Linked DNA regions of Homo sapiens: all the other regions are reported to be linked to region 4. Evidence: microRNA targets listed by miRTarBase, many of them from high-throughput screens and not tested one by one. Region 4 holds a microRNA gene; each other region holds the end of a gene's coding sequence. Distances are between the middles of the regions.

Evidence for each region. The annotated mature microRNA hsa-miR-4436b-5p reads GUCCACUUCUGCCUGCCCUGCC and lies in region 4 at 2,066-2,087, opposite strand. An mRNA with a match to its seed (bases 2 to 7 or 8) in the 3' UTR can be bound and repressed. Matches are read on the target gene's strand: a 7mer-m8 pairs with bases 2 to 8, a 7mer-A1 pairs with bases 2 to 7 and ends in A, and an 8mer does both.
Region 1: the mRNA of METTL16 is a reported target of hsa-miR-4436b-5p. Seed matches in the 3' UTR shown: 7mer-m8 at 111-117.
Region 2: miRTarBase lists SYVN1 as a target of hsa-miR-4436b-5p. Seed matches in the 3' UTR shown: 8mer at 730-737.
Region 3: miRTarBase lists HPR as a target of hsa-miR-4436b-5p. Seed matches in the 3' UTR shown: 7mer-m8 at 662-668.
Region 5: the mRNA of GDF7 is a reported target of hsa-miR-4436b-5p. Seed matches in the 3' UTR shown: 8mer at 2,086-2,093.
Region 6: miRTarBase lists LRAT as a target of hsa-miR-4436b-5p. Seed matches in the 3' UTR shown: 7mer-A1 at 97-103.

The regions. Positions count from the first base shown.
Region 1 is chr17:2,416,554-2,420,125 of GRCh38, forward strand. METTL16 (methyltransferase 16, RNA N6-adenosine) reads right to left here. Exons shown (of 10, transcript NM_024086.4): 10 at 1-3,572. The coding sequence ends at 3,417. Among named protein-coding and RNA genes, the nearest start is that of MNT, 17 kb to the left of the region's middle.
Region 2 is chr11:65,125,968-65,128,967 of GRCh38, reverse strand. SYVN1 (synoviolin 1) reads left to right here. Exons shown (of 16, transcript NM_172230.3): 15 at 254-405; 16 at 480-1,689. The coding sequence ends at 586. MRPL49 (mitochondrial ribosomal protein L49) reads right to left here. Exons shown (of 4, transcript NM_004927.4): 4 at 1,597-3,000. Among named protein-coding and RNA genes, the nearest start is that of MIR6751, 2.5 kb to the left of the region's middle.
Region 3 is chr16:72,076,478-72,080,187 of GRCh38, forward strand. It overlaps HPR (haptoglobin-related protein), which reads left to right. Exons shown (of 5, transcript NM_020995.4): 5 at 1-769. The coding sequence ends at 604. Among named protein-coding and RNA genes, the nearest start is that of HPR, 15 kb to the left of the region's middle.
Region 4 is chr2:110,283,242-110,286,951 of GRCh38, reverse strand. MIR4436B2 (microRNA 4436b-2) reads right to left here and starts at 2,099; the gene lies at 2,009-2,099. It also overlaps the pseudogene LOC128966597.
Region 5 is chr2:20,670,557-20,674,266 of GRCh38, reverse strand. GDF7 (growth differentiation factor 7) reads right to left here. Exons shown (of 2, transcript NM_182828.4): 2 at 1-3,710. The coding sequence ends at 2,842. Among named protein-coding and RNA genes, the nearest start is that of GDF7, 5.3 kb to the right of the region's middle. RefSeq lists an enhancer at 3,127-3,710.
Region 6 is chr4:154,748,782-154,751,781 of GRCh38, reverse strand. LRAT (lecithin retinol acyltransferase) reads right to left here. Exons shown (of 3, transcript NM_004744.5): 3 at 1-2,798. The coding sequence ends at 2,646. Among named protein-coding and RNA genes, the nearest start is that of LRAT, 6.3 kb to the right of the region's middle.

The DNA of each region.
Region 1 (3,572 bases), not on the chromosome of region 4:
GACAGTGCGGCCAGCATGTGTGGGGAAGGAAGCAGGCTGACGGAGGCAAAGCAGATTCCGAAGAACAAAAGCAGCTTTAGTTTGCCTGGGCAACAGGCTCAACTTCTGTCTCCACTTCAGTTATCAGGAGACCAGAAGCCGATTCTAGGGACCAGAAGAGAATGTAGGGTCACATCACCAAGATTTAATTTCATACCAACCCCGCAACATGAATGTGACCTCTGGACACCGGGAGAGTAACACTCAAGGTTATGACATATGAGTCAATAACCCATTTCTTCAAAGAAAAACTTGCCCACCTGTACCAGAGGTATATGCTATGAAACAACACACAATTATAAAGCATATGCATGACCAAAACAATGCTTAGATGTCCTTTAAAAATATTTTCAATGTTCTCTCACTAGGTAGCCTAAGAAAATCTTCTCAGGGAAGGAAATGGAAACATCCAAATGCACAGAAGGCACTCGGCTCCAGACTGAAAGCTGGCCTGCTCATGGGTTCCTTTTTTTTTTTTTTTTTTTTTTTTTTTGAGACAGTCCCACTTTGTCGCCCAGGCTGTAGTGCAGTGGCATTCTCGGCTCACTGCAACCTCCACCTCCCAGGTTCAAGCGAGTCTCCTGCCTCAGCCTCCCGAGTAGCTGGGATTACAGGCACGTGCTATCATGCCCGGCTAATTTTTGTATTTTGAGTAGAGACGGGGTTTCGCCATGTTGGCCAGGCTGGTCTCAAACTCCCGACCTCATGCGATGCGCCCATCTCAGCCTCACAGTGCTGGGATTACAGGCGTGAGCCACTGCGCCTGGCCACGGTCACGGATTTTTTAAAACTCTAAGGTCATTAGCTTGACATCTATAAAATCTCCTCCATGACATGAAGCCTTAAACCTAGGGACAGAAACACACTGAGACACAGAAACACCTTCTGTGCTTCAATACACAGAGCATTCTCTGGAAATCCCTACGACACAGGCTTAAAGGCCAGTGCTGTGCCTGAAAGACATTTTGAACAGGCAAGGAGTGTAAGCTAATACACTACTGTTACAACATGGACAAATACTTGTAAGATGTTAAATGAACAAAGGACCAGAATACAAAACTGAATACGCAGCATGAGGACAACCAAAGTTAAACCCACACACTCACACACCCCGTCTACAGAGAGACTAGAAAGGAACACGCCAATGCCAAGAGTGGTTATGTTACAGAAGGTTGGGACTCGGGGTGATTTTGTTGTTTTGACTTTCATTTTTCCAAATCTTTAATGAGCATGTGCCACTCTTTCATAATGAAACAAGCAAACAATAAGTACTTACTACTTACTGAATGAATAGTTGCCACTTAAACAATTATCCTAAAATTATACCAAGGAAACTAGGTTTGGGCCCAGCAAATGACTCAAATGTAATATTCACTCGAGGTAAGGACAGTGGGGTGGTGTGGGCTGGCACAGCAGAAAATTTCTAGACCAGGGGAATCCACGGTCCTGAATTGAGTCTTGGCTCTGTGTGACCCTGGGTATTGTTTTTTGCAGCCTGACACATGAATGCTTGGACTAGAATAATGATTCTTAATCCTTAGTGGGTTATTGACCCCTTTGTCTGTGTCTGAGGGTTCTGGGAACCCTCTCTCCAGGAAAAAAAATACACACACACACACACACACACACACATGCTCACAGAGCTTTTAGAAGTAACTCTAGGAGGTACATGGACTCTCTGGAGGTCCACGGACCAGGTTAAGAACACTGGTCAGAGGCTGGGAGTAGTGGCTCACGGCTGTAATCCCAGCACTTTGGGAGGCCAAGGTGGGCGGATCACCCGAGATCATGAGTTCGAGATTAGCCTGGCCAACATGGTGAAATCCCATCTCTACCAAAAACACAAAATTAGCCAGGCGTGGTGGCGCGTGCCTGTAATCCCAGCTACTTGGGAGGCTGAGGCAGGAGAATCGCTTGAACCCGGGAGGCGGGGGTTGCAGTGAGCTAAGATCGCACCACGGCACTCCAGCCTAGACAACAAGAGTAAAACTCCACCTCATAACAAACAATCAATCAAAAAGCCACTGGTCAGTATGCTGCCTTCTCCAGCTCCAGCTCCACAGCCAAGTTAAGGCACAGCAGTTCCGCTTCCTGTGTCTCTGCCGAGGGCCTGATCTAGCTGCTGCCAAGACATGCCAAGGTCACCAGCTTCCCGTCCTGACCAACAGCCACCTCTCAGAAGGCTGGCTTAACTACTCAGCCCCAGTCTTCTTAGCAGATGGCAAGGAGCTCTGGCCAAGATTTTAGTCTAAACAGAACCCTAGGCTGCTGATGCAACATCAAGCACAGCAAAAGGTCACCCCTTTCCGGGGGGACGGCTACTGAACCCTGGCATTCCAATTAGAAACGTGTTTCAAGGACACAGTTACTCCGGCCTCAGAACTCTCCAATGTGAGTAGGTAAGTACAGGGGGGATTACAAGTGAAGCCACAAAAAAACAGTATTTGATCAGCAACAAAATATCTGAGACTTTCTTAAGCTACCTACGGCACATACTATTTTGTTCTATTTCTCATTTCTATCATCAGCCGCTCACTCAGCTAACCCCAGGATTCAAATAGGACCGCTGGTTTTTAATTTGTGAATATTCTTATTTAAAAACAAAACAAGCTCTACTTCAGATGTCCAAACAAAAATCACACAGTAGTAAAACTGCTACAAAATGGTACTGTCAACAGGCTGGAGGTGGGGGTATGGGTGCCTTCTGTGTGCCTCAGTCACACCGGGGAGTTTTGCTTACCTAATTCTGCTTCTGAAATAAGCAACATCAAAACAGCCAGGTGTCAGGAATGTGCCATTTACCGGGTGGTCCCCAGACTCTGCTGCTCCTTCCCAGCATTACTAAGGTTTCTCTCCCAGATTCCCCACCACCCACCATACAGCTCCCTTTGTGGGATTGATGCAAGGTAGGCCCCATCTTGAAGAGTGACCTAGAACAGGGTACCAGGGCCTCCAGCTGGAGGCAGAGAGAGCCACCCCTCCTCAAGAAACACCCTTGGGTGACAGAGACAGCATGATATTCTAGGCAGTGCTGCCCAGCCCAGACTCCACAAACAACCCTTCTGACCTTGCAGAGGCAGTCCAGAGCTGAGGGGCCAGCTTGAGCCAGCTTGCAATCCCTCGGGAGTTTACTGAGGGCTTTCTGTTGTTACTGATGACCACAATTCCTCCTTGTAAATGACCACACTACGACTCCCTGTAACTCAAAAAGCGGGAAGGAGGCGGGGGGAGGTGGGGGACAGATTCATAGGTTTTTGTTTTCGAAGATAATTCCACATCGTGCTACTAATGGGCCGCTGGTAGGATTCCTCTTGCCACCCCACAGGCCACTCCAAAGCAAGTTACTATCAACACGTTTCCAACTGTGCAGGAGGTTTCTAGTTAACTGCAACAAGCCTGAAAATTTGGTTACGTATGTAGGTGCAAAGCTGGTTCATCAGATCCCTGTTCTGGCCCTCAACCCAGTGCATCTCCACTAAGGCATCGTCCACCTCCTTCTTAACGTTTATCAAACACTTAAACAGGTACTGTCC
Region 2 (3,000 bases), not on the chromosome of region 4:
TGCAGGGTAAGAGTGAACAGGTCAACAGTCCCTGCCTGCAAGCACCTTACAGCTAAGGGATAGAATCATTTGGCCCTTGAGTCCAGTCACCCTGTCTGAGTTCATTCAGCATGTTCACTTGTGTTTGCCAGGCACTGGGGCCACAAGGGCACATCATTCTATACTCTGTTCTGCAAGGCTCACCAAGGGCAGGAGAATCTGCCCAACCTTGGATGCCAAGGCCAGGCCCGCCTCTCGTCCCTTCTCTTCCCAGGCCCCCCCGGCCTGCCACTTCAGTCAACTCCACTGAGGAGACTGCCACTACAGTTGTTGCTGCTGCCTCCTCCACCAGCATCCCTAGCTCAGAGGCCACGACCCCAACCCCAGGAGCCTCCCCACCAGCCCCTGAAATGGAAAGGCCTCCAGGTAGGTGTGATTGGCCTCCAGCCGGGGGAGCAGGGAACTTCTCTAGGTTCCACTTCCAGTCTCTCTGTCCCCAGCTCCTGAGTCAGTGGGCACAGAGGAGATGCCTGAGGATGGAGAGCCCGATGCAGCAGAGCTCCGCCGGCGCCGCCTGCAGAAGCTGGAGTCTCCTGTTGCCCACTGACACTGCCCCAGCCCAGCCCCAGCCTCTGCTCTTTTGAGCAGCCCTCGCTGGAACATGTCCTGCCACCAAGTGCCAGCTCCCTCTCTGTCTGCACCAGGGAGTAGTACCCCCAGCTCTGAGAAAGAGGCGGCATCCCCTAGGCCAAGTGGAAAGAGGCTGGGGTTCCCATTTGACTCCAGTCCCAGGCAGCCATGGGGATCTCGGGTCAGTTCCAGCCTTCCTCTCCAACTCTTCAGCCCTGTGTTCTGCTGGGGCCATGAAGGCAGAAGGTTTAGCCTCTGAGAAGCCCTCTTCTTCCCCCACCCCTTTCCAGGAGAAGGGGCTGCCCCTCCAAGCCCTACTTGTATGTGCGGAGTCACACTGCAGTGCCGAACAGTATTAGCTCCCGTTCCCAAGTGTGGACTCCAGAGGGGCTGGAGGCAAGCTATGAACTTGCTCGCTGGCCCACCCCTAAGACTGGTACCCATTTCCTTTTCTTACCCTGATCTCCCCAGAAGCCTCTTGTGGTGGTGGCTGTGCCCCCTATGCCCTGTGGCATTTCTGCGTCTTACTGGCAACCACACAACTCAGGGAAAGGAATGCCTGGGAGTGGGGGTGCAGGCGGGCAGCACTGAGGGACCCTGCCCCGCCCCTCCCCCCAGGCCCCTTTCCTCTGCAGCTTCTCAAGTGAGACTGACCTGTCTCACCCAGCAGCCACTGCCCAGCCGCACTCCAGGCAAGGGCCAGTGCGCCTGCTCCTGACCACTGCAATCCCAGCGCCCAAGGAAGGCCACTTCTCAACTGGCAGAACTTCTGAAGTTTAGAATTGGAATTACTTCCTTACTAGTGTCTTTTGGCTTAAATTTTGTCTTTTGAAGTTGAATGCTTAATCCCGGGAAAGAGGAACAGGAGTGCCAGACTCCTGGTCTTTCCAGTTTAGAAAAGGCTCTGTGCCAAGGAGGGACCACAGGAGCTGGGACCTGCCTGCCCCTGTCTTTTCCCCTTGGTTTTGTGTTACAAGAGTTGTTGGAGACAGTTTCAGATGATTATTTAATTTGTAAATATTGTACAAATTTTAATAGCTTAAATTGTATATACAGCCAAATAAAAACTTGCATTAACAATTGGTGGGGTTTGTGTCACAGAATCGATCAAATCAGTGTCGGGCTCCTTGCTGTGGCTGTACACTTGAAAATGGAATGGAATCTCCAGGAGTGAGGGTTTCCATGGAAGCCAGCACTATCCTTGGGGACACCACTGACCATTAACAGATTAGGAAGATGTGCCCATTTTACACACAGAGAAGCAGCCCAGAGTTCAGTGCCCTGCTTCAGGGCAGAGACCAAGTTGGGGAGTCAGGAACTGAAAGCTGTCTTAGCCAGTTTGGGGGCAGGGTGGGGTCTCAGGCCTTTGGCCCCTGTGACTCCAAGTATAAGGCATATATGAAGGCTAGTGAGCTGGGGTTGGGATGGGATGGCAGGGTGAAAGGTCAGCATATTCCTGCCTGCAAACCCCTCCCCAGCCTTGATTGCAGGTCAGAAGGCTGCAGGGGGATGTCCCTATGCTGGCTGTGAGTTCCCAGCCACTCCCTTGTGGTCAGGCCAGCAAGTCTGGTCTGCAATGGAACAGTGACCAAGAACGTGCCTCCTACCTCTCTATCAGAGCCCGGGGCTAACGTGGGCACTCTGTGCCCCAGTGCCAGCACTGTACTTTGAACAGAAGATCTCCAAGACCCATGCCCGAGTCATCTGTGTTCTCCATCACCTGCACCAAACAAGATCTGGCCTAGAGCAAAGGCTTGGGGGTATTTGCAACAGTGAGCTTCGGAGGGCCAAGGAAACAAAGTGCCCAGTGGCTCTGCCCTGTGCTACCTTCCCCTAAACTGGGGTTGGGCTACTGCTTCCACCAAATAACAACTAGAATTTGAATTGCTGAGCCCAAGGAAAGAAAAACAAAACAGGCCAAGGTGGACCAGGCACATGGCTCATGCCTATAATCCCAACGCTTTGGGAGGCCAAGGTGGGCGGATCACTTCGAGTCAGGAGTTTGAGACCAGCCTGGCCAACATGGTGAAACCCCATCTCTACTAAAAATACAAAAATTAGCAGGCTGTGGTGGTGGGCGCCTGTAATCCCAGCTACTCAAGAGGCTGAGGCAGGAGAATCCCTTGATCCCAGAGGTGGAAGTTGCAGTGAGCCAAGATCATGCCACTGCACTCCACCCTGGGCAACAGAGTGAGACTCCGTCTCAAAAAACAAAAAAGAACAGGCCAAGATAGGAGGGAGAGAAAGCTGCTGACGCCCCCCATTAGCCTGGTGATCCCTATTTGGTCTCCCACATTAGGCACTCTCCCCCAGCATGTACATAGAGTTGTTTTCTCCTTTATGCAAGCAAGGCCTGACCCCAAAGTCCTTTAGCCCTAGTTTCTGTATCCC
Region 3 (3,710 bases), not on the chromosome of region 4:
GAACCATTCAGAAAATGCAACAGCGAAAGACATTGCCCCTACTTTAACACTCTATGTGGGGAAAAAGCAGCTTGTAGAGATTGAGAAGGTGGTTCTACACCCTAACTACCACCAGGTAGATATTGGGCTCATCAAACTCAAACAGAAGGTGCTTGTTAATGAGAGAGTGATGCCCATCTGCCTACCTTCAAAGAATTATGCAGAAGTAGGGCGTGTGGGTTACGTGTCTGGCTGGGGACAAAGTGACAACTTTAAACTTACTGACCATCTGAAGTATGTCATGCTGCCTGTGGCTGACCAATACGATTGCATAACGCATTATGAAGGCAGCACATGCCCCAAATGGAAGGCACCGAAGAGCCCTGTAGGGGTGCAGCCCATACTGAACGAACACACCTTCTGTGTCGGCATGTCTAAGTACCAGGAAGACACCTGCTATGGCGATGCGGGCAGTGCCTTTGCCGTTCACGACCTGGAGGAGGACACCTGGTACGCGGCTGGGATCCTAAGCTTTGATAAGAGCTGTGCTGTGGCTGAGTATGGTGTGTATGTGAAGGTGACTTCCATCCAGCACTGGGTTCAGAAGACCATAGCTGAGAACTAATGCAAGGCTGGCCGGAAGCCCTTGCCTGAAAGCAAGATTTCAGCCTGGAAGAGGGCAAAGTGGACGGGAGTGGACAGGAGTGGATGCGATAAGATGTGGTTTGAAGCTGATGGGTGCCAGCCCTGCATTGCTGAGTCAATCAATAAAGAGCTTTCTTTTGACCCATTTCTGTGTTGTGTTCAGTCTTGAGTCTTTTTTATTTGCTCCTTTATGGTCCAGGGTAGTCAGAAGGTATAGAGTCTACTGGGAGTATGGCAGAAAACACCCTAAACCCACTGGAAATCCCGAAGGTGATACAAACTCTTCCACCTTAGGGAATCATGCTCACTGATTGAGTGCCTATTGAATGCTAGGTCCCAGAAAGTTAACTGTTGTCCTTGTTTTACAGACAAGGAAACAGAGACTCAGAGATGGTAAGTGAGTTGCTTAAGGTTACATAGCTATGAAACAGGGAAGCAGAACTTTGAACCCAGGTCTGTTTGATACAAACTCAGAGGTCCTTTCACTGCATGCTGTTGCCTCTTTAAAGCGAATTAGGAGAAAGGGCATGGGCCTGGTGAGGAAGAGGCTAGCTCAAAATGGGATGGGGAAAAAGTGTTTTAACACAGACAGTACTTCAGAGTTTGGGATCTAACCTACCAGCACTCCAGAAAACAAAAGATGATGATGTAAAGGCAGGATCTCTGGACTTGCTGAGTCCAAATCATGGCTTGGCCCAAACATTTGCTAAGTAATTTAGGCTTCCTGGCCATTAGTTCCTGGTCTCTTCCATGAAGGACTTGAGCCAGGGTAACGTCCCTATCAGCAATAAGCTTCTGGGACTCTGTAAAGAGTGGGGAGGTAGAGTCCCTGCCTCAGTAGAAGCTGCTTTTCCTACTTGGAACAAACCCACCCTTCACCAGGAATCAAAAGCAAGCTGTCTGAGCCTCCTCTCCTGATGGCAGGTCATGCTATTAAGGGTCTCCCAGAAGAAAGCTTCTGGAGCTCTGAGAAACAGAAGCTCTTCTAACAGAACTTTTTCTTGCTATAAGCTTTCAATACCACCAATCACCAATGTGCCTTCTTCTCATGCGAAAATACGGCCCCTCCTTTGCAGGGTGTAAAATGACACTGATGTCACTCTCTCTCACCAGGGTCTGGCCATCTCTGTGAAGCTCTCCTCACAGGCACCCTGCAGATTCATCAATAAACTTCAACAGGTTAGCGCTAGTAGGCCAATAAGACCTATATTCTAGAACCTGTGAAAGAGATAATAGCCAGAAACTGGCAAACACCAGTCAAACTCTTTAAAAAAATGCCTCTTAGAACACAGTCACTTACACATTTTCCTAGATCTCTTCAGCACCAAGTTTCTTGGAAGAACAAGGCACTCTGCAGTTTTCTTAAAGAATTGTCTGATTGTATTAAGTGGCTTCTGGTAAAACAACAGTAAGAGAAAAGTTCTGGCATTCTCTTGATCACTCATCTTCTCTGCCTTCCTCCCCAGCACCACCTCCTGGCCTCAGCCTGTGGGCTTCTGCAAAGTCAGGTATCAGGACTAATTAGCTAGCATCAAATTCCTGTTAATTCCAGAAGCAGGGACAAACCTGTTGGGGAGGGACTTAATGACAAAATTAGGTATAGGTCTATACGTTAATCAAGGAAAATTCTCTACTTCCTTAAACTTACTTACCACCCTAGAGGAGAGCCAAATCCACTCTGATGACGTTTGGTCATAGGAAGGAAATTGGGGAAAATTACAAGTTTCTCCAATCCATGTAAAATTAAGAAATCCTGGGGAAGTTGTAAAGAGAAAACAGTACCCTATTCCCTTGAAAGGCAGAATAGGTTTATAACTTATAATCGAAGGTCTCCTTCAGGAAGGACTTCTTGAACCCCATATGTCCTCTTACAACACTCCAATATTGCCTGTAAAAAAGTCGGATGGGTCATAGCGGCTACTGCGAGACCTTCGAGCCATTAACCAAATAGTCCAGACCACCCACCCTGTCATTCCTAACCCTTACACCATTATCAGCAAGATCCCTCATGACTGCCAGTGGTTCACAGTAATAGACCTCAATGATGACTTCTGGGCTTGCCCCTTAGCTGTGGATAGCTGGGACATATTTGCTTTTGAATGGGAAGACCCTCATTCCAGTTGGAAGCAATAGTAGTGATGGACAGTTCTACCCCAAGGGTTTACAGACTCTCCAAACCTATTAGTCAAAGTTTGGAACAAGTCCTAGAGAATTTCCCTCTTTCATCATCCTTATGTCTACTCCAATATGTGGATGACCTGCTCATTTCCAGAGGCACCAAAGACCAAGTAACCGCAATTTTAATTAGCTTTCTAAATTTCCTAAGGGAACAATGGTTACGGGTCTCAAAAAGTAAACTCCAGCTTGTAGAACCTGAGGTAAAACACATGGGGCACTTAATAAGCAAAGGTAAGCCGAAGATAGGGCCCGAACAAATGGAAGGGATCATATCCCTGCCACTGCCTGAGACAAAACAAGAACTTAGAAAATTCTTCAGGCTAGCTGGAAATTATTGCCTGTGGATTGACTCTTATGCCTTAAAAACAAAACCTCTATATCTAAAACTTACCCAAGAAGGGCCTGACCCCCTTCTTTGGACCCCACAAGAAGTCCAGCAAGTTGAGGAACTAAAACATCTACTTATAACTGCCCCTGTCTTAGCTCTGCCATCCTTAGAACAGCCATTTCACTTTTTTGTTAATATAAGCAATGGGGCAGCTATAGGAGTACTCACTCAAAAGCATGGGGCCATTGCCAGCCCACAGCCTTTCTGTCAAACATTCTTGACGTGGTAACCTGTGGGTGGCCCGAATGTATCCAATCTACAGCAGCAACTGTTTTATTGACAGAGGAAAGTAGAAAAATAACCTTTGGGGGAAGTCTCATCCTAAGCACACCCCATCAGGTTAAAACCATTCTTAGCCAAAAAGCAGGGAGATGGCTTACAGATTCAAGAATCCTAAAATATGAAGCTATCCTATTAGAAAAAGGTGATTTAACCCTAACCACTGACAATGTGCTCAACCCCGCCACCTTCCTTTTTTTTTTTTTTTTTGAGATGGAGTTTCACTCTTATTGCCCATGCT
Region 4 (3,710 bases):
GTGAGGGGGGTGAGTGCAGGTGGCGCAGCGCGGTTCCTGGGACATGGGTCCTTCACTCCTCGCTGAGATGTTGCGGCAGCCTTTTCTTCCAATGCGGTTGTGGCAGGAGAATCCACGGATGTAATGTTTTCACCTTTTTCCCTGAGGGTGCTTTCTGAGGAACCAGTCCTTAAGAGGTGGGGTCTTGGATTCCTGACCCAGGCGTCCGGCAGCTGCTCAGTTTCCGAGATGTCAGACTCATGGAGGAGCAGGCTATGCCCTTCCCTCCCCATTCCCCACCCCTCAAGCCCCAGGTCTTACTGTATAATGATTTATTTTCCCCACACGTCTACCCTCAAAATTGGCTTCATGCAAATTTCCCTTGAATCCTAATGCTGGAGAGGAAAGGGGAGGGGAAGTGGGAGGGTGGTGGGCAGGGTGGCTTGACCCTGTCAGCCTCCCAGGGAACTCGGGACCACGGCTCCCCAGCACAGGCTGAACAAGTACCAGGAACAAGGTCTATGCATCTGCGTTAGATCTGAAGGCCTTGGCAGCACCTCTTCAATTTTAAGAGAATCAGGCCGGGCGCGGTGGCTCACGCCTGTAATCCCAGCACTTTGGGAGGCCGAGGCGGGCGGATCACGAGGTCAGGAGATCGAGACCATCCTGGCTAATACGGTGAAACCCCATCTCTACTAAAAATACAACTAAATTAGCCGGGCACGGTGGTGGGCGCCTGTAGTCCCGGCTACTCGGGAGGCTGAGGCAGGAGAATGGCGGGAACCCGGGAGGCGGAGCCTGCAGTGAGTGGAGATCGCGTCACTGCACTCCAGCCTTGGAGGAAGAGCGAGACTCCGTCTCAAAAAAAACAAAATAAAACAAACAAAAAAAAGATCAGACTGAGTATTCCCCTAGACCTACTCTAGGGAAGCCCATAGCTGAGGCAAAATCCCCAAACAGACTTGGCATTAGTGGGGCTAGGATTCTCCATTAGTGGAGTGAGGGCTTTGATGTGAGTTGTCTAGAAGAGCAAGTTCATGGTCAGATAATTCCAAGAGACAGTTGTTTTCCCAGGAAAAAGAAAAGCTTCCTCCTATTCAGCAGAGTGAATTTAAATGTCCAAACAAAGTGTGGTGTCATCGCTCAGTCTGCAAGGACGTTCTGTTAATCCCGTGGACGTTTTAGTGGATCTTCCGTTTGTCATCCAGATGGCAAACGTTGGAAGCTGCTTTTGGGGACCAATAATTGGAGCTTTCAAAGAGCATTTCCCCCTTGGCCTGGCGCCTGTGCATCAGTGGTAATAGATGCTGAAGGCATGGAGAATGTAGAGCAGCGTGGCGATGAAGGCGAAGAACTGGAAGGAGGTGGAGAGTGACTGTTAGAGACAGCAGCGCCAGCTCCTGCCCACCCCTCAGGTACCCTCAGCCCCACTGCCCAGGAGGCCACGCATGACCCTGCCTCCTCGCCTCCTGCGTGGCCTGAGGGCAGCAACCCCTGGCCAACAACTCCCTCTTCTGGAAACTCTCCATCAGGGCCTCCCTGGGGCCGTCCTGGTGTCCTGCCCCGACTGCAGTCTCCACCTCATCTGCACCTGGCTGTGAAGCAGGCTCACCTCCACCACAGCTCTGGGCCCATATCCCACGCTGACCTCCTGCCCGAGGCCCGCTCTCCTCTGCCCACCTCCAGCAAATCTGTGTTCTGAACACTCCTACAGCTCCCCTCGCTGGCCCAGAACTCTGCCCTGAGCGGCTGCTTATCAGCTCCTCGTGAATGTTCAGACATCCTCCAGCTCTTCCTGGCTCACACTGAGCCCCTGACGTTTCCTCACAAGCCTGACAAGCCCAGTGGGCCCCAGGGTCCTCCTCTCGCCCCACTCCCTGAGCCTGACCCCTGTGGCCCCTGGCTCCTCCTGCCTCCCTTGCCAGCCATATGCAAAGCCACCCCAAAGGCTACTGATTTCCCTGCCTAGCTCTTGGGACATTCATTTTTCCCTTGTCTCAGCCACCGGCATCCCTCGGCAGGACTCCTCATGGCCTCACTTGTCCACTTCTTCCTGCCCTGCCCCTCGAATCTGCTCCACCATTTGGGCAGGGCAGGCAGAAGTGGACAAGTGAGGACACTTCTCACTCATGGGGAGAACACAATCCCGTTGCCCCACGTTGAAGCTGTATGATGGCTCTGCTCTTTTCTCAGGGTAGGGCCGTCACCTTCAATACCTTTCAGGCCCTGCCAAACATCCCAGCCCCACTCTGCCCCACTGTCCACTCACACGCTCCTCATTCAGTCAGTCAGTCAACAAATATCTTTTAAGGACCTGCTTTCCTTCAAGAGCAACTGTGGGTATAACAGTGAAGAAAATATTCAAAAATTCCTGCCCTCATGGAGCTTACATTTGAGAGATAAGAAGCAGATAGCAGCAAGATAGATGAGTAGCACATACATGGGTTAGATGGAGGTAAATGCCACCCACTGTGGAGTGCACTGTGACCCTCTGGGGTGGCCACAAGATATTTCAGCTGCCTTCTGGCCTGTCTGCCTCCCTTCCCTCCTCATCAGGTGAGTTTAACTTCCTAAACTTGCAAGACCAGCAACGGCCCCTGCAATCCTCCATGGCCAGCTGTCCCAGCTACACCACCCTCCTGGCTGCCCTTGAGCACACAGAGGGTCCTTGGCAGGGGTAACTGCCTGGTGGGACCTTAGCAGGGGTAACTGCCTGGTGGCCCCTGCCTCCTTCTGTCCTCTTGACAGGGCCTTCCCTGATGCCTCCTCCCCTGAGACCTCGACATTCCACTTTCCCCTTCCCTGCTTCATCTCTCAATAGTTCAGCCATGCCGAGGGATGCGGGCCCCATTCCAAAGGCAGTGGGTGCCATTGAAGGATTTTCAGTAGGAGAGAGACATCTGTTCCAATTTGTGTTTTGGAAAAAGAAAATTCTGCAGACAGCGTGGGGGGTGTCTAAGAGAGAGGAAAGCTGGAGTGGGAACAATAGAAGGTAAAAGAGGACCCCTGAACGTGGGTGCACATGTTTACAGGGACACACATCCCTATCCCCTGCCCCCATGGCTCCTTCCACTTGAGGGCTCAGGGTCTATACAGCACAAGCAAAGTTAGGCCTCCTGCACGAAACATCCTCCAGGCAAGACTGCTGTCCTTGGCCAGCCCACTCACCGAGGCTGCCGAATTAATGTAGTAAATTCTTGGGTCCAGCAGTTTCTCAGAAACAATCGTGGCATGTACTTGTAGGACGGCAGCGCTCATGTACAGGATGCCAGTGGTCCCGTGGTACAGGCTGTCCTGGAAATGCAGAGCAGAGCCACGCATGGCCACATCAATCAGGTGAACATTTTCCTCTCTGGCTACATAGCAGTAAAGAATGAGCAAATGAGGCAGGCCAGCCCCCTAGAGTCCTGCCTTTTTTTTTTTTTTTTGCAGTGTGATTTGGTTTGGCTCTGTGTCCCTGCCCAAATCTCATCTCGAATTGTAATCCCCACATGTTGGGGGAGGGACCTGGTGGGAGATGACTGGATTATGGGGGCAGTTTCCCCATGCTGTTCTCGTGATAGTGAGGGAGTTCTCATAAGATCTGATGGTTTAAAAGTGTGACACTTCCCTCTCTCACTCCTGCTGCCATGTAAGGTGTGCCTTGCTTCCCCTTCGCCTTCCACCATGATTGTAAGATTCCTGAGACCTCCCTAGCCATGCAGAACTGTGAGCCAATTAAACCTCTTTTC
Region 5 (3,710 bases), 90 Mb from region 4:
ACATGCTTTCTCCCTGCCTGTCAGTTCTCCCATCCATGGTGACTGGAGATTCCAGCTGGGGGTTGCAACAGAGAAGCTGGGTTCATGCCAGTCACCCAGGCCTGTCCCCCGCTACCTAGAAGACAGAGAGCTCAGGGTGCTACTACCAACTGTGCTGGCAGAACGCTTTTCTCCACACCTTGGCAATGCTAGTTAAACCACATCTTAGCAGCAAAAAGCCGTCTGCCCCACATGTGTTGGCCCTTTGTTGTCATTTTTACAAGTGAAATGGATCCTCTGCATTCACCTAGTGAATGGACTGAGATGCCAGAGGGCTGGGCAGAGTGGCCCCTGGGGGCTTCACCTGCTCCAGAGGAAATCTGGGAAGCATTCCTTTTATCCAGTAAACAAAGAGCACACTGAGGGTATGGGGCCATGGAAGGAACAGTCACTGTCCAAGGACAACACCCCTCCCACCGGGTGCCACCTGAACTCAAGATGCAGGAAGGTACCTACTTCCCACACCACTCACAACACATCTCGTTAGAAGGAGGTCATCAGAAGGAAAGAGGGGAAATTGACAGTTTTTTTCCCTACTATAAAAAGGCCAGGCTAAATCAAGACATTTCTGCCCAAAAAATTGTTTTTACTAGTCACTAAAAAAGTATCAAAATGTTTGCTTTTATCCAAAGATATTAAATACCCCAGACCTTCCTCAAAATAACATTTAACTGCACTTTGTCATTAACTTCCTTTCTAAACCTTCTAATACTACAACTTTCAACACTTCAGTGCTTTTTTTAATATATAATTCTTCATTATGACAAGCTTCATTTTAAAAACGAGAGTGAGGCATCTCTGGCAAAATCCACAAATTTAGGGACCATCTTTGCCCAGTCACTAAAATAAGATGGAATTGTACCAGAGCAGCCACTTTTGGATATTTTTAAAATTTTTAACCTGAAGAGACTGTTCATGTTCTGGTTATTTATAGCTACTCATACAGCCACAGAATATAAATTCACATAATAGGAGGAAGGGGGGAATCTTAATTTTAAGAGTAATTTACACGTGTATTTTTTTTTCTTTTGGGAGAATTTTACAGGATGAAAACCGATTCAGGTAGGGCCCCTAAGTAAATTAGCTGTATCTAAATCGTAAGTCTGTCTTCTCTCTCTCAAGAGTGTAATCACTGAGAATCAAAATGTGTATGAATTGTCCTGCATCCAACACAGGGTGGAAATAATGCTCCCCAGGACTCTGAAGGGGAAAGTCCTACACAACATCACACAGATGCACCGAGAGGGCTGCGGGGCTGTTCTAAGAAGCCCCCACCCCGGACAGCTGGAGTCCAACTAGGTTCCCTCTCCCAGCCTATTGACAAAAAGCCACAAAGGATTCCCAGGCATAAACAAATCAAATCAAACAGTGAAGTCTGAATGTTCGAACTCACTTTTACATGCCTAGAAAATCCTCCCATCAATAAGACCCTTTGGGGCCAAATAAGGGAACTGGGGGATATTCCACCTCTGCTCCCCCACACCAAGGCCCTGCCCTTCCAAGGGCACAGCAGCCAAGCCAGGGAGCCGATGAGGGGAAGGGGCAGACCTTCCCCCTGCTCTAAAGGTCTGGGTTGTGAGTTGAAGTCTGACAAAAGCATTTTTGAGTGGCTTCACTTCCCGTTACTATCACACTGCCAACAACTACAGCAACAACACAGCGAAAGCAGGTAAAAAGCGGAGGCCGACTTACTTGATAACTAGCACAAGCCCGAGTCGGCCCCGGGAGCTTCCGCCTACCTGGCCGGCAAGCCGGAGTCCTCGGCTGGAGTGGGCCCCAGGACACCTCCTTGCCTTTCAAGCCCTGAGAGCCTCTTCCCTGGCTTCTTAGGAAAACCTCCTGGCAGGTCTCTAGGAAAAGCAGTAGCTCCCCTCCCCCAGCCCCACCTTCCCCATTCCGGGCCATTGCACTAACTTCCTCCTGAGCCACCCGAGGCATGGCTCCCACCTCCCCCTGACCAACTGGGGAGCTTCCGAACCTGGCAGATCCTATCCCACCCCAATATCCTGTTAGATCAGACTCAGCCGTTTAAAAGAAAAATATCCTTTCCACTTTCCATAACATTTCCTATTGGAATTGATTAAAAAAAAAAAAAAAAAAGGCGGGGGGGGGGGGGGGGGTGGCGGTACCGACCTTTGCAGAAATCTGGGAAGCTCCACAACAGCTACTTTCAGACAAAACTTCCCTTTCAAAAATGAAGCAGGGGCACGTTAAATTTTAAAAGTTAAAAAAAGAAAGATGCTTTTTGCAGCAGTTCCAGGGTAAACGGCCCCATGCAACACAAACCCTCGGGAAGGGCATTACAGCCTTGCAGTGGGTCACGGAGTGCACCACGCGGCGCTCAGCCCCCCAGGGAAGCGATGCCCCACATCGGGCCAGAAACAAAAGGGGGTGAGATAAAGCATGCTCGAGTACCCCTTTGGTTCTCCCATTCTGGAACTTCGAATTTCCTAACCCGTTGTTGCTACCTGATTTTCGTGCCTCTAACTGCAACATCAGCACAAACACCTTCCTCTCCCTAAATGGGGGCAGTGGGCGCCATGGTTATCTGTTTGCAAAATACACAGGGCTTTGACATTCGGTACCGGCAGGTCATCTCTTCCCAAGGCTTTCACATGCTGTCCCCGGTAAATGTGTGCGTGACTGCACGAGTGTGTGTGAGTGTGAACGTGTGCTCTCCCTCCTCTGAGAGGGTGCTGGGTCACATCGGACATGCACCCACGCTCGGTGACAGGGTGGCCCGCTGCTGCTCATCAGCTGGGGATCCTCGGCCGCGTGGCTGCCCCCTCCCCGGCCCTCGCGCTACCTGCAGCCGCAGGCCTCCACCACCATGTCCTCGTATTGCTTGTAGACAACGTTGTTGGCGGCGTCGATGTAGAGGATGCTGATGGGGCTGAGGCGCGCTGGCACACAGCAGGAGGCCGGCGCCGCGTCTGGTGCCATGGAGTTGAGCAGCGTCTGAATGATGGCATGGTTGGTGGGCTCGAGGTGCGAACGCAAAGGGAAGTCGCAAAGGCCCTCGCAGTGGTACGCCTCGTAGTCCAGCGGCGCGATGATCCAGTCGTCCCAGCCGAGCTCCTTGAAGTCCACGTGCAACGGCTTGCGGCTGCAGCGGCTCCGGCCCCTGCGCCCGTGGCCCCGGCCCGCGCCCCCGCCGCTGCCCTGCGCTGTCCGCGTCCCGGCCAACGCCGTCCTCCTCCGTCTGCGGCCGCCAATGACTGCCCTTGGCGACGCGGTGCCGGTTCCTGGGTCGGGCAGCGGCTCTGAGGCCAGAGCGGCCCCGAGCGCGCGGGCCTGGGCGCGGATCTCCCGGAATAAGCTCTCTTTCCTCTGCGTGCGGGAGGAGACGACTAGCACCGCGCGCTCCTCTGCCGCAGAGCCCCCTCCGCCCGGCCAGCCGAAGCCCAGCCGCCGCAGTGCCAACGGGCTCGGCACCGGGCCTGCCACTGCGCGCAGCAAGAGGCAGAACGCGCGGGGGGGGCGCGGTTCACGACGGTGGCGCCTCATGGCGTCCGCCACGTCGAACGCCTCCCAGCGCTGACCGACTAGGGGCTCAGCTGCCCGCGAGTACAGCAGGCGTGGCGCTCGGGCGGCGCCCGGGCACGTGGACAGCAGCAGCAACGGCGGAGAAGTCCAGCTGCCTGGGCCCGACTCTGGAGATCCCCGGCGCA
Region 6 (3,000 bases), not on the chromosome of region 4:
CTCAGGGTTTCTTCTTCTTTTTTTTTTTTTTTTTTTTTTTTTTTTTTTGAGATGGAGTCTCACTTTGTTGCCCAGGCTGGAGTGCAGTGGCGCAATTTCCACTCACTGCAAGCTCCGCCTCCTCGGTTCACGCCATTCTCCTGCCTCAACCTCATGAGTAGCTGGGACTACAGGCGCCGGCCACCACGCCCAGCTAATTTTGTATTTTTAGTAGAGATGGGGTTTCACCGTGTTAGCCAGGATGGTCTCGATCTCCTGACCTTGTGATCCTCCCTCCTTGGCCTCCCAAAGTGCTGGGGTTACAGGCTTGAGCCACCGCGCCCGGCCTCAGGGTTTCTTTTATAACTGTGATCAGGAAGATGTGCTTTTCTTTCTACTTGGTTAAGCAACTAATCAAACTCAGCACAACAAAACAAAGATTCTCCTTTTCTCCCAAGAAGTTCAACAGTTCTAGCGTTGTAGAACATTTCACAAATAAAACCATCCTAGTTTCCTTTTCCCATAAACAGTTGAACACATCAGTGTGATAAGATCACCTCACACTATTTCTTGGCTTAATGCTAGCATTGCCTCCTGCATACAGATTTCTCTTACCCTTCTAGCAGATTTAATTGCTTCTTCCCCTGTATTCCCACAGCACTGTATATACTCTATTATAGCTAGTTTACGAATAATAATATTAATTCTGGACCATAAAATTGCAACTGGTCAATGCCTGGCATATAATGAACACTCAAATGAACAAGGAATTGAATCTTGCTTTAATGAAGTAAGTCAAGACTAATTATGTCAGTTCCAATCTTAAGAACGTCCTTGGCTTTTAATGAGGGGTCTTCATCTTTGAACACAGATTTAGTTTCAGACAGTGGTTTTTGCTGCCTGTAATAACTAAAGTTTGCAAAAAAATTAATTATTTGAGGACACTATATTTTTAAGAAATGAATTTCCTTAAACTATTCCTACAAGGGTAATATACAGTAAGTGAAAAACCACTAACACGGTAGTTCTCATAGTGGTTGCTTTTATGTATGCATACTTAAGATAATTTTAAGTGGTTAGAATAGGTCCAGAGAACACCTATATTCTATGGTGTTGCCATTTAATGTTTTAATTATTTAAAATACTTAAATAATTTAATATTTAATTTGAAAAATTAAATACTGAGTTTGTTGTGGGCAAATTAGTGGTGATAAAACATTATTAATCTAAAATCTGCTCTTAAAATTTGTTCAGATTATCATTGACTGATTGGCCCCGCCCTCCCCATATTCACTCATAATATGATTTGTTATTTTGTGATTCTTGACAGTTAAGAAAGCAATTTTAATACCTGAAATGCAAGTCTAGCTGTGGCTTCATTTTAAGAATTTGGTAATTTTGTAAAAGTGCTTGAATGCTTGTTTTACCATTGTTATATCTCAATTCTTATAAGACCCTCAGCAGAATCAATTTACATGACTGGCAGTACTAAGCCACTTTAAAATTATTTTAAATAATTTTATTTGCTTGGGTTCTACTTGTTTGGGTTTTACATACTACTGTGGCATCCTTCTTTTAAGGATATAAACTATAATTAGAAATGATATGGAAAAAAGTGACTAGAAAACAAATCTGAAGGCTTTTAAAAATTTCAGAGTACATTAGTAAATGCTTTAAAAGACAACCCATCCAATAACATATATGCAAGTTAACACTACAAATTCAATGACATAAGAAAATAGATTGGACTTACTTTTACATTCACCTCTACAGATACTCTATAATGAACACACTAGTATGATGATAATAAAGCAATCAAGAACAATTTATCTCTCAGTCTGTGTATATGTGACTATCTACATATTTATTTCACACACACATGCCAAATACCCACATAACTTCAATCCTATATCCATTTACCTCTCAGAGTGATTTAAAGTAGCCACAGTGGCACATAAAAGGAAAAAAATAATGAATTCCAGGCTTCCTAGTAAGTAAAGCCAAATCAAATTGTTCAAGTGATACTATAGTGCTATTTTTACAGGAAAACACAGATTTCTATAATTTCTGGTCATTTACTTCATCATTAAAGTACTATTTGCCAATATTGGTTTCACATAATGACAATAAAACATTCTTGACTTATATACTACATGAAAAAAATAGATTATGAGCTTATTTTTTGACCAGTCATCAAACATGTTTTCATTTGAATAAAGAAAATTCTTCCAGTTTAATATGTTTATCAATTTGTTTTTTCAATGAAACAAAGTAAATTTACAGTAAAGTTACTGGTCTCAATATAAGTCTTCCAATCTTCAAATTCAGCCGAACAGTACAAGGATTACAGGAGAAAAAAAAACACAATTAATCTCTTGTGGCTATCATTTTAGGGGCTGGTTTTCTCATATTGCTGAATTCTACCACACCCTGTCGTATTTCCAAGGTTTGGATGGTGCTTTAAATCTGAACTGCCTGAGAAGATTCAGAAAGCCTTTGTTCTTGGGCTTACACAGTAAGCACTTTGCGTGATTCCTAATCACATTTTTATCCAGAACACAGTGTTACGGGTCACATTTTTCTCAATAATGCTTATATTGATTGATGCTCTATAAATATAAACATATTTACATACAGAATACACACACTGACATGGGGGTATGAAGTTAGCCAGCCATCCATAGGAAGAATGGAATAAAAATTGCAGGAAGGGTAGTGTATGATACCAAGCCCGTACAGACTATAGACGCCAATCCCAAGACTGCTGAAGCAAGAACACTTCTCTGATCACGAATAATTATCTTCACAGTCTCACAAAACTGGAAAATAAAATATTGGAAAATTAGGAAAGGTGGCTAAACCCAAGAAGAATCACATATATCAAACAGTAAATCAGTTTTCCCAGCTATTTTCTGTCTACCAGAAGAACTAGACTTTTTCTTATGACTTACAAAAAAATTTACAATGTTAAGAGTCCAGTTCTGATTCTATACCGTATAGTAGCAGAAATGATCCCTTAGG